Regions from separate parts of the Homo sapiens genome. Here region 1 is linked to region 2. Evidence: fine-mapped expression QTL. Tissue or cell type: nasal epithelium. Region 2 holds a variant in brackets; the other region holds the start of a gene. All regions are shown on one strand. Distances are between the middles of the regions.

Region 1 (8,107 bases), 200 kb after region 2:
TGGACGAGAGGGCAGGACATTGACTATATCAGATGACAGACATCAAGATGCCAGAGCAGAGGGAGCAGAGAGGACCCTTTGCTCAGGGGTTAGCTTCCGAGGCTCCAGCTCTGATGTCTCAAAACCAATGCCTTTTTCTTCCAGAGGGGAAAAAGACTGTTTTTCAACTTTAGAGGTGTTTTACAAAACAACCTAAAACACTGATTAATCTAAATAAACCATGGTATATAGGACTCTTCCACCAAGAATTAAAGAACAGCTTTATAAAATAATTTTGTATTAAACAAATAATTTACAGTGAGAGCCTCACTTTTGTCACCACCATCAAGGAAAAAAATGTGCTGATACTTCAGCAAAAGAAAGGAAAATTCAAGAAGGAAACTTTTGATATTGAGGTCCCTTTGCTGAAGGAACAGAATAGAGTTTCTTCATTTAATGTGCATACAACTCACTTAAAGGTCTTGTTAAAATGTTGATTCCGATTGGCTGAGTTCAGAGTGGGGCCTAAGAATCTGCATTTGCAACAAGCTTCCAGGCGATTCTAATGTTGAAGGTCCGTGAACCTCACTATGATAGCAAAGGACATTATGAAAATGCCTTCTCCAGAGATGTTTAAAAATAGAAACACAGGTATATCTAATTGGTGTAATTTCCTTTAACCACTGAGTAGAAAAAAATAGATGATGTTATTCCCACACAATAAAAATTTAAATATAATTACAAGTGCTACCGGAAAAATCAGAGTACTAAACTAGGTCTTTTGCAAAGAAAAGATGCCCTGAGAAAAAGCAAAGACTGAAAATTTACAAGAAAAACCCATGAGATGCTTTACTCACTTCCACAGACCTACAAAGTTCACTCTTCTAACAGGGGTAGTTAGCCCCTTCCTTCTGGAAGAATGGTTTGCATTTCCAATAATGTAGTGAAAGAAACTACGGCTGCCATTAAATAAAGCCCAATTATAATGAAGATACTAGTTACGATGCAACATAATTAAAGGAGCATCATGTCATTGCACGTAAAAAAAATTAGGCTTTAAAATGTTCTATAAGAATATGCTATTAAAAAGAAAAGCTTAAAATTATTTCGACAAAATCCACACTGAATGATTTCCACTAATCATGTCTATGTTAGCAGTAGTAAAATCCTTCCACGTCAAAATAGTACTTCCACATGTAAAGTCATACATTCAAACATCAAGACAAAGCAACCACTCTACAAACCCTTCCAGGAAACTCTGCCAATGCCAAGCCTCTGCTCAGGATGTGTCACAAGTAGAGGGAGGTCTTCTCATTTGCTCTGCAACATCACAGATAGTTGTTACTAGTCTTGCCCAAGAGAAGTTCTTCACAGAAAACCTCAACTGTGGGAGACGACCTAGTGACAGCAGTTCCTTCACTGCCCAATACTTCTCCTCTCAGATGAAGGTTTTGGTCACTCCAGTAATGACAGAGTTACAAAGAGCTTAACCCAACAGAATTCTGCACCTGCTGTGTAAGTCAGAACAGCTAAACCTCCTGTGACATCAACACAGGATATTTCTTACAACAAAGTAAATCCAAAACGTTTGGATGATCCATGGGAACAACATTCATAAAAATCTGTACGCAACACGATTTTACACAACCAGCACAAAAAGTCTCATATTTTAATGGCTATTAGAGAAACTCAAAATAACGCACATACACCACACAATGTACATGCAGTTCTATTCTGCAGAGCCACATGAAATCAAAAGCAACTAACTTGGATTCATTAGAAATATTTAAAAATACAAGCAGGCACGCCCTTGGCTTGTAAACACTGACCTTCCCTTCCAACTAGCATATTGAAATTTCCTTTTTCACCTAAACATTTTAGGAAAGCCTGGGTTGACATTTGAAATATATCCCATTTGCCATCCCACACTGAATAATGAATTATAGAGATGGCATTTAGAAGGGAAATTCCCTGTGTCCTGGCCGAGACTAAACATGAGAACACTGGGAACCATCTCCTTCTGACTAGATGCCAGTCAAGAGGCCTTGGTGGTCTGCCCTTCTCCACCCTCTCCCCAGTCACAGCTGTGAAAAATATGTATACAAAAAATACATATAAACAAACACAAACGCAGTGTTACTGTCATAATCCCATTAATTACGCCCGGACACTTAACTTGGCTACCTCAATCAATAGAAATCTGAATACCAATTTAGCCCCCATCATGACACTCATACACCTAATAATCCTTAATAAAGCATCCAAATAATGCAACTGTACTTGACTTAGAAAAAGCAAACGATGAAAACAAAATACAAGCTAAAGGAATCATTTACTATCCATTAAAAAACATATAAATTCCTTTTAAAACAACCTACTGAATTTTAATATACTTATAAATGTCTTAGTGACATAAAACCCAAAATGCATTAATCATTTCATTTAAAAATGGTTTCCTACAGAAAAAATGCATACTTGGTATTAACCAAAGACAGACGAGGTACTGTAATGTCACAGTTGTGAAGGTCCAATTAATAAACACCAACTTTTCACGTAGAAAAAATTAATGCATAGCTGGGTTGTGGTTACAGATTATGGACGATCCACAGAAAAACGCTGCGACTCCCCACACTGCAACATTGCCTCCGCACACCACTGGGCCCAGTCCTTCCTGCAGCCCCTCCCTATGGCTCAGGTCCCCTGGTCGCAGATCAGATTCCGATCCGCAACCACAGGCCGGCTCCCCTCTGCCTGCACTGGTGATGCAGGGCGCCCCTCCGGCAGAGCGCAGCCCAAGAAGAGGTGCAGGAGGGATCATCCCAAAAGAAAAGACTCTCCCCTGCTCACACCTAGCTGACCTGGTCCTCCTGACGCCACATCCAGCAGAAGCTGCAGGACAAGGTAGCAGCAGCTCCAGGCCTCGGCCAAGGGCAGCCCCGGGCCTGGGTGGGGCCGGGCGGGGGCCGCAGGCGCCGAGCGGCCGTGCCAAGCCCCGCCAGCGAGAACCAAGGAAGCTGCGATACTGCTGCATTGTGCTGCATCACGGCGAGGGCACCGTGAGCCATCCATCTTGCCAAAAAAGCACATCCCCGCCCAAATAAACCCCACCGAATTCAATTTTCTGCTCCGCCGAAGCACCCCCACACGCACCCTGTCCTCACTTACTATCTGGCCTGGCTTTCGATTGGAAAAATAATGGACAGAGGTTTGCGTTCTGATCCCCACCCCCTCCTCATCTGATGGCAGCAGTTGGCACCTTTCCTATCACAAAAACAAAGAGAAGGCGCCCCCTAAAAGAGGGCCGTGGGCGTGGTGTGGGGGGTGATGACGAGCCAGCCCACCTACCCAAAGCAGGCCCGGAGGGTCCCTGCGCTGAGACAAACCTGTTGAAGAGAGGGTGGCAGGAGCTGAAGGGCGGGCGCAGCGGCGGCTCGGCGCCCGGAGGCGGCTCACGCCCAGCCCTGGGAGAGTGGGGACGGCAGAAAGGGCGGGGGGGGGGCGGGCGCACGAGGGTAGCAAGCGCAGGGATGGGGCGGAGGTGGGGGCGCGGGGCCGCCGCCTCCGGCTCAGCTGCAGCGCGGCGCAGCCGGGACCACGCCTGGCCGCATCCCCTGCACCGCTACGCGCAGAGCCCGGCCCTGTCACCGCCGCCCCCGCTCCCCACCCGCGGGGCCACAGAGAGGGCACCTGAAAATAGACCCTCCGGCTGTCCGCTGTCCGCTCCGCACCCACCTCCGCGCCAGGGGCCTCCGCGTCAGGGGCCGCCGCGCCCGGCTGCAGGGAGGCGCCGGCGGAGGCAGGGAGGAGGAATCGCCGCGCCGCGCCGGGGCTGGGGCCGGACGGCAGCGGTGCGCACGGCGGGTCTGCTGCCGCCTCACCGCAGAGCCTGCCGCCCCTCGTCCCGCATCATCCGAGTACCAATGAGCACCCGCGACCCGGGCTCCCCGCGCCGCCCCCGCCCGGGCTTTGCAGCCTCCCTGCCCCCACGCGGCTCCCCGGGCGCAGGGCAGGCGGGCAGCGGCGTCCTCCGGCCCTGGGCCCGCGCCCCTCCTCCCGCCCGTCCGCCGCCGCGGAGCCCACCCGGGAGGCAGCCCCAGTGAGTTGGCATCTCCCTGCCTCGGGCCCCCTACCTACCTCCCGGGGATGGGGTGGGGGCGCCGGGGTCCCGTCCTCCTCCCGCTCCTCGGCGGCCGGGCGGGTGGGCCGGGAGGCGACTCCGCGGGTCTGTCCGCGGCTGGGGCCGGGGCTCACAGGACGGGACCAGTGGGCGCTGCTGCGCAGGGCTGCGCGCTCGCTCCGGGAGGAGAGGCGGCCGAGGGAGGGACTGGAGGAATCCGCAGCCTGCACGGCAACAGCGGCACTGATTCCGGGGGCTGGGCGGGAGCGCGGGGGGCGGGGGGAGGAGGAGAGGAGGGCGCTCGCAGGGAGGGGGCGAGGGGCGGGGAGAGGAGCGCGCGGGGCGGGCGCGCGCGCACACACACACAAGCGCACTCCCGGGATCCCTCCCGCACGCCCTCCGCCCTCCGCACTCCTCCCTCCCCACTCCCGCCCGCTCCCTCTGCTTCGCCCGCCCTCTCCTCCTGCCCGGAGCCCCGCAGCCGCCCAGGGAGCCGAGCCTCGGGCGCGTCCACGTCCTCTCCAGCTGAGGCTCTTCCCGGGTCCAGCCCGGACCTCATCCTCCCAGCGGCGGGGACCGACCAGGCTGGCCGGGGCGGGGTGGGCACTGCTGCTGCCGCTACCCGAGCAGGACAATAGGGGCTTTGTCTCCACAGCCGGAGAGGGCCAATTTCACGTTTAATTTGAGGCTAATTCGATTATCGCCATGGAAAGAGGCGGTCTAATTTTCTACGTGATTTGTGCAGCCTCTTTTCGCCCTTGATGTTGCGTTCGGAATGCTGGGGAGAGAGGGTATTTAGGGAGGTTTTGGAGCGTCACTTGCTTGGTTGGTTTGAGATGCAGTTGGTGATGCCTTATAGGTTCTACCCAACTTGGAGAAGGGCGACGGCGACCTCTTCGTGGGAAACCTTGGGCGCTGGAGGATGGGTGGTGGGGGTCGTTCCTTGTGAGGTTAATGTATTCTTTTGCAAATGCTTTTTCGCCCACCCTTTCGCTTTGGGTAGCTGGGAGCAGACCCTACAAGTGGTTCATCCAACTCCTGCCTCTCAGTGCAGGCTCCGCTCGAACCTGAGGCCAGGTGCCCTGCCCCAGTCACTCCCGAGAGAGGGGTCGTCCGGCCGCGGTGGAGGGCCCCGTGATGGCGTGGGGACTTGCGTTTTCCCCTATGCGCATTCCCTGAAACGGAAACTGGACGTTTCCTCAAATTTTTGTCATGTGCCACTGCCCCTTCCCAGTCACCTGGTCTACCCCGTCAGCCCCTCAGGCTGTGTAGAAATTCCAGAACCGTCACTGTTGTGAAGAAAAGATGGTGGAATCACCAGGACCACGAATGGAAACGCTCTTTAGAAAAGCAGTTTGAAGAAACTGACTTTCTCCTTGTTCTGTAAAGTGCACAGGGCGGCACTGCGGGCATTCAGAGGGAGGAGGGCCCTTCCTGTTTGAAAAAGCCCCAGGGCTTTTTCCCCATACAGACCTGATCACCTGGATTAAAATAAAACAAAAATACACGGCAGCCAAGTAGTTTGTATCATGCTTATATCTCAGATCACTAGAACCTGGCCTGATGGGTTTATATGTTTGTATGTATTTTTAAATGAATATTTTAAAATAAAACTCAGTGAAATCGTCACAGCAAACTGAAGATGATTCTTCCTTTTAGGCCTTCATAGGTTTGAATGTTTGAACCTATGTTTACTTTTGATAGGAAAAAAATTGAGGAAAGCAAATAACATTTTTTCTCAGAAGGTGAATCAACACAACCAGACCGTAAACTCTCTTAAAGGTAGGGTTATTTCTTTCTTCACTCTGTACATATAGCAGGCACTTAGGTACTAAAACAAATTTGTTGAATTGAACACAATCAACTTGTAAGCTGCTGCCCTCATTAGGTAATAAGGGAAATCCACTAGAAAGCAAAGTTGTTTGCCTTTCACTTACTTATTTTTTTACCATGGACCCCAGCACCTCCCCACTCACAATGTTAATGAAATACCAAAGAAAACAGTAACAATATTGGGAAGTGCATCCATTTAAATTAATTCTTCCAGTGTTATTCTGAAATGGTTATTCCTTTATCACAGACAACGGTATTTAAATAAATTTTCATTTGATGAATGATTCACCTCCCTTACCCCATTCCACTCCCACTTACGTTGTTTTTTAATTAAAAAAAAAAAAAAGGCCACACACACCTTAGCAAGGTACTCTAGTAAAGCCCCAGTAATTATTCCAAAAATGTGAAAGACAAGGATTCAGAGTTCTACTGTAAATACCTGCATCACAATTTTGAATTCTTACCCTTAGGTGCAAAAAATCACCCTAGAGAACTCAGTGTACCAACGACCAAAAAGAAGTAACAATTCAAAGAAAAGATAGTACAACTGGAAAGATTATTGGAGAAGACATTTTTATGGAAGGCAAAATCTAAAAAAGATAAAAAGTCTTAGGCAGTGATAACAGCTCAGAAGGATTATTCCCATGTATCTCAGAAGCGGCTTAGTTTCTTCTCATATTAGAATCAGGGTTGATATAAAGGAACCTAGAAGTCTTCAATATCATGTTTGTAACATACTACTCTCCACTTTTAAAACCATGTGATTGCATATGGCTTTATCTCCCATCAAAATACTTTATTACAAAATTTTTACAGATATAAATTGTCATTTTAACTTTCCATTCAGAATGTAGGGGAAGGCTGGGCACGGTGGCTCATGCCTGTAATCCCAGCACTTTGAGAGGCTGAAGTGGGTGGATCACCTGAGGTCAGGAGTTCAAGACCAGCCTGGCCAACATGGCGAAACCCCGTCTCTACTAAAAATACAAAAATTAGCCGGGCATGGTGAGACACGCCTATAGTCCCAGGTACTCTGGAGGCTGGGGCAGGAGAATCACTTGAACCTGGAAGGCGGAGGTTGCAGTGAGCCGAGATCGCACCACTGCATTCCAGCCTGGGTGACAGAGCGAGACTCTGTCTCAAAAAATAAAATAAAATAAAATAAAATAAAAAGGTATTGATAAACAGTATTGTCTACTACAACCTGTTTTGTTTAGAAAAGAGAATGATACTCTAAGTATTTCCTTGGTTATATTATATTAACCCAATTGAACTCATCTTTTATTGTACTGATAATAGCCCAAAACTTTAAAATCAGAACATATTTTGAAAACTTGCATATATTTTTAAAATTCCTGTTTACTCCTAAACTTGCTTCCTTTTAACTCTGAACTAGTCTGGGAAATTTCCTCATATTTAAAATATATTTCATTTGGGAATTCACATGTATTAATTTTGCACTGGGAAAACCTAAAGACTTATATGTAAACTATCATTATGAATGAATTTTTTAAAGCACTAATAACATATTTACTCTTGCATAAAGTAATTTATTCTTTCATTATTCAAGAGATAGATATGCCTTATATTCTTCTCGGCTCTGAAATAGAGCAATGGGTAAAATAATTTTAAAAAATCATTGCTTTCATGGATCTTCCATTCTAGTAGATTATATCTAGTATTCCATTCTAGATATAATCAATCAATAAAAAAGTAAAAGATATGTGTAATGATAAATCTGAATAGATGGTAACCTAAATGTATAACAATATTTATAAAATGATCACAATAAATGGTCTCAGCTTTCTATAAAAGATCTTCACATTTTCTATGTTAATAATAATAATGATTATAAGTAGCAACCATAAAATGTTTTCCAGTTTTTAAAATGCTTTATCAAATATTATCTTATTTTGTCCTTTTGCCAGTTCTGTGAGGTAAATATTAACCCCATTCTGTGGATGACCAAATGGTCAAATGAGTTGCCCAAGTTCTCACAGCTAGTTAAGTGCCAGAGATATCTTAGGAGCTAGCATATCAGAGCTGTATGCCTGGGCATTGCATATGAATTACTCAACATAACTCTATTTTGCAAGATGGAAGAAAGTTCTAGAGATGGATGGTAGTGATGGTTCCACAACGATGTACACGTACATAATGCCACTAAACTGTATGAAA
Region 2 (8,107 bases):
ACAACCTTGACAAGATAAACGGTAGACTGGCCACCACCATGTGAACACCTGGATCTGTAAACTCTTGGGAACTGTATCTCTCACTTATTAGGTCTTATCTTAATGGCTGGGCCCAATGCTTGATTTTGAACAAAACTAATTTTGGGGGGAAAAAGGGCTACAAAAAGCTCTGGAAGGAGGGAGAATCACAAGTTTAAGTTATGTCTATGCAAACTATCATAATTAGCATCAGGGCTGAGGGAAGACTAGAAACTATGCAGTTTAATGGTGGTTTTGATTGGAACCCTTTACCCTCATGGCAATGTGGAAAATGGATTATTAGGAAAAAAGACTTGTGGGGGTGTGTGTGCGCACAAGTGCTGCATGGTGATCACCAAGGCCTTGCAAGTGACAGACTGCAGACACGTGCTTATGAGCAACAGACTACTTAAACCATTCTCTCTCTTTTCACTTTTAAAGGAGAGTTGCAGGAGGGGAAATAGACAAAAAACAAAACCCTGAGTCAAAATAATGTGAGTGGACTTTAAAGGTGACAAATCTTCTCTAGTGTGAGATTCGGAAACTTCTGGTGAGGAGGAAGTATGAGTTTGGTCTGGAAGGCCTGAGCCAGGTGTGAGTCCAGAGAGACATGGGGTTAGTATGTAGAGAAACCAGGATAAAAAAAAATTTAGTGCTGCAGGTTTGACTTGAAAGCTGCTAGTGACAGCAATGACCTGGGTAGAGAGATGTTTCCTTGAAAACGGCTAAAATTTATCATACTTGGTCAGACTGCAAGGTAGATGAAGGCCAGGGAAGCCTCTTCTGAGGATAATTCTGCAGCAAAAATTTTTTCTTTAGAGTTAGAAGGAAAGAGAAAACCCCAAACCAGTATGCAGAGATCATTAATGTTTATGCAAATGAATCACTAACCAAGAAAACAAGGAAAATAAAAGGAACAAAATGAATTTTAATGGACATGTGCTTTAAGCATGCCAACAGACAGCACACCACTAGAGACACACATCAAAAGCAATCACAGTGCTATGATCAAATGATGGGTACATGTGAACACATCCCTCGCAACCCCACCCCCCACGTTGCTTCTCTTTAGCGATTAGTCCAGAGTGCTTTAGTGGCTGGGCACACCCGAGATACTTAAATCAGGAGGTGAACATGAATGCAACGTGACAACTAGTAGCACAGAAAACACCTGATTGGTATTCAAAGTGCACGAAGCAATGCTATTTTCAAGTTCACTGAGTCTCTGCGTCATCACTCAAAACAATAAAAATACTTTTTCTTCTCATACAAGCCAATTGTAATTAAAATTTTGTTATGACAAGCTACATTTAAAAATCTAGATAAAAATAGGCATGATAGCAAATGCTAAGAACATCATAGCACTCTTTTCTTGTGTGCTTATGTGGTTCCTTTTTTGGAGGGTCTTCTAGATACAAAAAGTGTCAAATTGGGTGTCAGTCCTGATGATACAAAATTTAAACACACACACATATATATATGAAAACATCACATATATACATATAGATCAATGAAACACAAAATGTAACTTGGAGCCACAAACACACATTAGAGCTCCCTAATGACCAAAGACAAAGCAGAAGTTTTTTTGTCTAAAATGAATTTTGATGTGTTTTAAGGCAGAGACCCAATAATGATGCATACTACCCCCAGAACATAAGAAGCTTGGCATCTATCTATATACCCATCTACAGTCAGAAGTAGATAGATATGTACATAGAGATAAGGAAAAACAAACAAGATGCTATATGACGTTATCCTGACAAAAGAAAAAAAAGACATGCATCATGAAATAAAAAGACAAATCAGACTTAACTCATAGAGAACACATATCAAAACAGGTTTCTGATTCCACTGACACATCTAAATATGGCAAAAGAGCAAGTGAATGTCTCACAAGGTTTTGATGTATAATATGGATTTGGTTTTGTTTTTATCGGTACAAGGAAACCATCTCTGTCACCAGCTTTTATTTCTAAGGAAAAGGATTTTTGTGAAAACATTTTCAATTCCTGCTGGTGGCCTGATAGATACCATCCTAAAAGCTTCCTTTATCAGAGAATTCCACAAAAAGTCTTGAGAAAATGAACAATGAATCAGAAGATTAATCCAAGATGTACAGTGGAGTTTGTCTACAGAGACACTGACATGACTTCTGAAGCCAGGGGGCATGCGAGCGCTCCCAGGCACGGTCCACCAAGTGCAACGTTCAAGTAATCAGGATGAACCACAATGGCTTCTGTTCCATTTGTTTGAAAAATTAAAACAGTTTGACACCCTGAAGTCATCGGCTGAATGGAGAGGCATGGAAGTCTGTGAGGCAAGCTTCTAAAACATGCTGAGAACGGCTGTCACCTGCCGCGTCCCACGTGCCAGCAGCACTGACAGGGAGCGAGACAGAGGTGGCGGCAGCAGTCAGCGGGCACTTTACTCCTGAGGCTGGCTGCAACATCTGTGCAAGGAAGCCTACAGTTTTCAATTCAGGACTTGGCAGAAAAAAAGAGAGGAACTAGTTTGTAAAAAGTAATAAATGACCCAAGGGTCTCAAAATGTATGAGATTGTGTGCCTAAAATTAAAATAGCTTCCAGAATATATCTGACTCCCTTTTTTGTCATCTTCAATAAATGAATGCATCTTTCATGGAATGTTACACAGCTGACTTTAGGTTTTAATCTTATTACAGAATGTCTCCCTCCTCATACACCAGTCTTCCTAGTTAATAGTAAACTACTATAGGTTAATAACATCTGTAAAGGCGGCTACATATAGCACAGTACTGTGCCCTGTTAGAATAACTGAATGTGTCATACCTGTTAGATTCTAGTTTTCTTCTTCATTATGCTGTAATCTCATTTAATTTCATTTCAATTACTCATGTAAGGGTTTCGCTGTAAAATCTTAATAAAGTAAAAAGCTCACAATAAATAAACAAAAAATAAGTATGCTGCTTTAAGGCAAGTGGGCATCCATCAGTTAAGAGACTCAAACATGAATTAAATGCAAACAAATATGAAACCAAGGAAGGCTATGAATTAAGTAAAAATTTTAACATTTTGGGTGAAGTGGAAGCCAAAAAGTCAAAACCCAGAGGATTTGGAAAGGGTGATTCTTGACAAATGGTAGTGAACTTCACAGTCCAGACCATGGCTGGTCACTGGCTGTCCGTCTGCTATTAAAGTTTTTGTAGTTTTGGTAGGTTTGAGAGCGGTAACTAACCCGTGGAGATCCCTGTTCAGCTGGCAAACCGTTTTGGGAAACTTGTTCTCCTTTTGAAGTATCCCTGTTAGGGAAGAGGGGAAAAGGAGGAAGGGAAAGGAAGAAGAGGAGAAAGAGGAAACAGTAAGAAAGGGTGGGAGAACATCATCACTCAATTTTATTACGTGCAACCTTTTCACATAATTTAATTCTTTTTAAATCTGAAACTTCCAAGTGTTTTAAATAGACTCTAGACAGAAAAATACGACTACAGGAATGCCCTATGCCCCGCTCCACCACATAAAGGCAGCATTAGAGGTTGCCATGGAACTCTTACCATAGCAAAATAATTAGCCCTTTGGAAGTAGAGAATAATTGCTGCCCTCTGTGTGAAGTTACTTAGAACTCTCAAAAAACGCATCACCACAAAATCACTGGCCTAAAATCTGGGCAGTTCACTCCATGCATTTAATCATATGGAAGTTCTGAGCATCCTGTGTGTGTGCACACAGGATGAGAAAGGGCACTGTCTACATTCTACTTCTGCCACCTACATACCTATGTGACTGTGGACAAATCAGTGCCCTCCAAGGTTATTTAGGGATAACTGTACAGCCTTTAAACAGTCTATGGAAGCAATCAGTAGGCAGGGCATGTGGTTAGGCCTAGCAATGCAAGGCTTCAGAAAGATGCCCCATAAACCTCATTGGCCACCGAGGCTAAGGGTCCAGCCTCTGGAGCTGCTGGGACTCACCACTGCTGCTGGGACTCGGCTTCCTCTGAAACCTTCGTGCTCGGCTCGGGAGAAGGCGGCCGCCTCTTCCTCTCCTCTTCCTCTTGCTGTCTGCGCACTTCCAGTAACTCCAACTAAGAGAAAATAGAGTGATGTTTGGTAGAGTCCCAAACTCTGCCTCTTTTCAGAAAAAGGTTCTAGGAACCCAGGAAGTCCTCCTGTCTAGTTTGCTAAACTGGACCACACTGGACAAGAAGCTCTAACATCCTGAGCCAAATGGAATTAGGTTCACAGGAACTGCAGCTACAACCTAAAACTACAGGAAATAGTCTATTCCATGGGCTGGCAAAATTCCTGTGAGTTGTTTGTAGGACCCCTGGGAGCTTGGGTTTAATTTCTAAAGTAACTATGCAACTCTCAACTCTGCTGAGGAGAAAAGTACCTGAGCCTGAGGGTTCATGCTGGACTCCCCAGGAGAGCTCAGACAAACACCAGGGACAGAGCTGCAATAATTCTCAAGGAAGCCGCTTGTGCTGTGGTGGGGATCTGTGTTCAGCCAAAACCCAAACAACACATTAAAAAGCCACAGAATAGTCTAACTGAAACAAAGCCATTTCATGAGTCATATGGATGTACCAGAAGTACTCTGTTTTAACACAAATGTATGCAGGTACATTTTAAACACCCAGAACTGGAAACCAGAAACACCATTTTTGTACACTGCAAAGGATCAGCTTTCTACCAGGAATGCAAAAGTCTTGGGAGAGGAAACACCAGTGCACAA[A/T]TCCTATTCTAAGGCCTTTATGTTGACAGAAGAGGGGATCAGGACTGGGGACTTAACAACAGGCTAGGATTAAGCTTCCATTTGATGGGAATTCTAATTCTGAAATTCTGAAGAAAATTTTGAGGCCATGCCCCCTTGAGAACAAAGCTTTTATGAGATAGGGGAGAATGAAAGATTCGAAGAAAAAAGCAAACACCACCAATCAACCCCCAGGCAGGAAGCTACTATAAGGGATCATAAATCCAGGTGCCCAGGATGTGACTGAGGAGGTAACAGTCCTGACCCTCTCCCTAGGTCCTGCTCCACAGGAGCCACCCATTTTAAGATGATCTTCACTACTTGAAAAAAACCCAAAAAACAAAAACAAGCAATCGTGTGAATTCCCTGGTCTAAGAGGCAAGCAGGAAGAAAAGGCTGCCCAGGGCACCAACAGACAAAGGGCCCAGCGGCCACTTACTGTAGTCAGCCTTTCCAGGGCAGAGAACCTCTCATCCCAGGTTGCTGCAGACTTTTCAAATGCCTCGTGGCGCTTGATGAGCTTCTCCACCTCGTCCACGCTCTGGCCTATCTCTCGGCTGGATAGGTACGGCTCCTGTCCAAGCAGCCAGGCCTCGGCCACACTGGCGTCTCTTGAGAACTGATGGACCTCCAGAACTGCACAGGGTACCATGAGTTAGTACACGTTGACCAGGAGGTGCCGGGCAGTCATATGGCCTTACCTCTTGGCACTGCTGCCCTCTGGTGATGGCTACCTGCATAACCAGTCTATCGTCTACTCTAAATTAGCCCTGTCCAATGTAAATGTAATGTGAGCCACACTTGCAACTTTGACTTTTCCAGTAGCCACATTAAAAAGAGTAAAAATAAATAGGTGAAATTAACTTTAATAGTGTATTTCACATAATATGTATAAAATTATTACAACATGTAATCAATATGAAAAAAACTATTGAGATCTGTTACAATCTTTTTTCTTCTAAATCTAAATCTGATGTGCATTTTACGGCACACATTCACTGCCCATCTCAATTTGAGACATTTCAAGTTCTCAAGAGCCACACGTGGGAAAGCAGCTATCATACTGCTCAGCGCAGGTCTACAGTGAACGCTCTGTTCACTCGGCCCCACTTCATGAGCTAAGCCTTCAGAGACCTGCAGGAATTCACAATCTACACGTAGCCAGATGGGCAGGCATTCTTAACTCGCCCTCTTTTGGGCGGTAGTTGTGTGTTTTATTTTGGGGGGTTTAGAGGGAGGGAAGGATATGGGAACACTACAGATGGTGGGGACCAAGGCTTTTGCTCTGTTTCATTCTGTTCTTCCACCTGTGAGGAAATGGAACACTAGTTCCAACATAGTTATGAGAAGGTAGGTTAGAACCAGGCTTTCTGCTATAGTTAACACTGATTTTCACTTCATTTCATGCAGCAAAGCCTGGGATCATTGAGGTAAAAAATGGACTGTGGGCAGCGTTGGTGTCCCAAGGAGCTGGCTAGCTATCTGCTTTCAGCACCTCGGTAGCCCCCAACATGACTACATGAAGAAGATGCCACCTCTGCACTAGGGACTTACTGGCTTTTCAAGGCAGGGACTGTGCATATCACTGTGTCCCTGGTGTACAAGCTGGTGCCCGGTTCAGTGTGTAATGTGGGTTTTGCTGAGCTGAATGAAACTGCCCCACAATTCTCAAAACATACAGACCAAATCCTCCTGCAAAGAATGGTCAAAAAGTGGGATTTCTGAGGGCTCTGGGCCCAACAGAGTGTGCCGTCAAACCTCTCAGAAAAGGCCCTTGCATTTGGTTTCTAGTAAACCCCCATAACATGCATAGATGGAGTTAGAACATAAGGACAGAGCCCAGAACTCCAACAGAGAATGGCAAAGCATGGTAAGCAATGCTAGAATTGCGCTGTTAGTGCTCATACCAATTATGAAATGCTATTCCTAATACTGTACATTATAAACCCTGTATTAGCTCACATATTCCCTTATAAAATGAGAATTAAAAATAGAATCTAATTCACAGGGTCACTTTGGGGAATAAACACAGAAATACATTAAAAAACCACTTAGAACAATGCCTCATTCACAGCAAAATTTTAATAGATGTTAGTTTTTATTATGTTATCAACATTCCACTAAGAGCACCAAATATGACTTAATGAGATCAACTTTCCAACTTGATTCTGTAGTAAGAATTCTTGAAGACAAATGGGGGAGAGGGCTTCTATCTGTATTCTCCCAGGGAGGTGCCCTCTGTCATCCCTAAAGAACATCCAAATCCCACCTATGACACTGAGATCAATCAAGAGGTGAAAAATGACTACGCCATAGGAAGCTTCTTAAAAGTAGTATTTACCATGAAATGGTGAAACGGGGCACTAAAAAGGCATCTACAACTCGAACAATCTTTAAATGATAACATTAATGAATTAAAGCAAGAAAATAAACGTGCATGTTTTCCATTGATACCCAAAAGAGCAGAAAGATAAACTACATCCTTACTCAGTCTTAACCATTCCCATCGGTCTTCCCACTTGTCGATCATTTCTTTCCTCTTTTCCGTCAACTGCAGTAATTTTTCCTTGATCTGTATGAAAAAGAGGATCCCCGGGACATCTTAATGGAATGCACCACATCCTCTTGATGGGGTCATTTTATACTAGAAAAATACATTTTCTGCAAAGACCACCATTAAGCTGGGAGATATCTAAGGACTGCTCAGTCTGTCTGAGGACTGGGAGAGGAAAGAAAAGCATAGCACTGCTCCTTCCAGAAGGGGCTGGAGGAAGGCGCGGAAGCCCTGCCAAAGCTGTTTTGTCGTGAGGAGGCTCCCTGCGGCAAACACGTTCAGGAGAGGGACAGCAAGACGGACAAAGCCCTGACCTCTTGGAGAGGATGCCCATTCCCATGCAGGGGGCCACACACGCACCTAATAATTTACCTCTTTATTACCACCATCCTAACCAGAATCACCAACCATGCACTCAACAGCAAACTGATCTAGGGCATAGTCAATGGACATTGGCGTCACCTAGAAAGAGTACTGATTGGGGAGGATGCGGAGTCCATTTTGTAGCCCTCAAAAATTGTCTTCTGTGCCAGAGATTTACCAGCCTGGGCCTAGAGTCTTGCATAATTGCATTATTCTAGACGCACAGGAAAGGAGTTTTAAAACATATGTGTGTGTGTATAAGAATGTAAACACAGTATCTCTGACACACACAAACATATAAAACAAAGTCATTTTACATCTTGACGCCAGCTGCAGCTCCAAAGCAAAGTAGCAACCTACCTCCTCAGATGCATAGTGTTTTCTCGCCAACAGGGATTTCCCAAGTTCAATGCAGGTTGTGAAACTGTCATTACGTGCATC

The links. PIP is the estimated chance that this variant, and not a neighbour inherited with it, causes the effect.
Region 1: it holds the start of SPTBN1, and the variant in region 2 is fine-mapped to the expression of SPTBN1 in nasal epithelium (TOPMed, PIP 0.93).

What each region holds. Positions count from the first base shown.
Region 1 is chr2:54,452,525-54,460,631 of GRCh38, reverse strand. SPTBN1 (spectrin beta, non-erythrocytic 1) reads right to left here and starts at 4,305. Exons shown (of 36, transcript NM_003128.3): 1 at 4,114-4,305.
Region 2 is chr2:54,655,128-54,663,234 of GRCh38, reverse strand. It overlaps SPTBN1 (spectrin beta, non-erythrocytic 1), which reads right to left. Exons shown (of 36, transcript NM_003128.3): 28 at 8,027-8,107; 29 at 7,237-7,321; 30 at 5,189-5,385; 31 at 3,969-4,081; 32 at 3,236-3,299. Among named protein-coding and RNA genes, the nearest start is that of SPTBN1-AS2, 21 kb to the left of the region's middle. The variant A/T (reference allele first, on the strand shown) is at 4,732.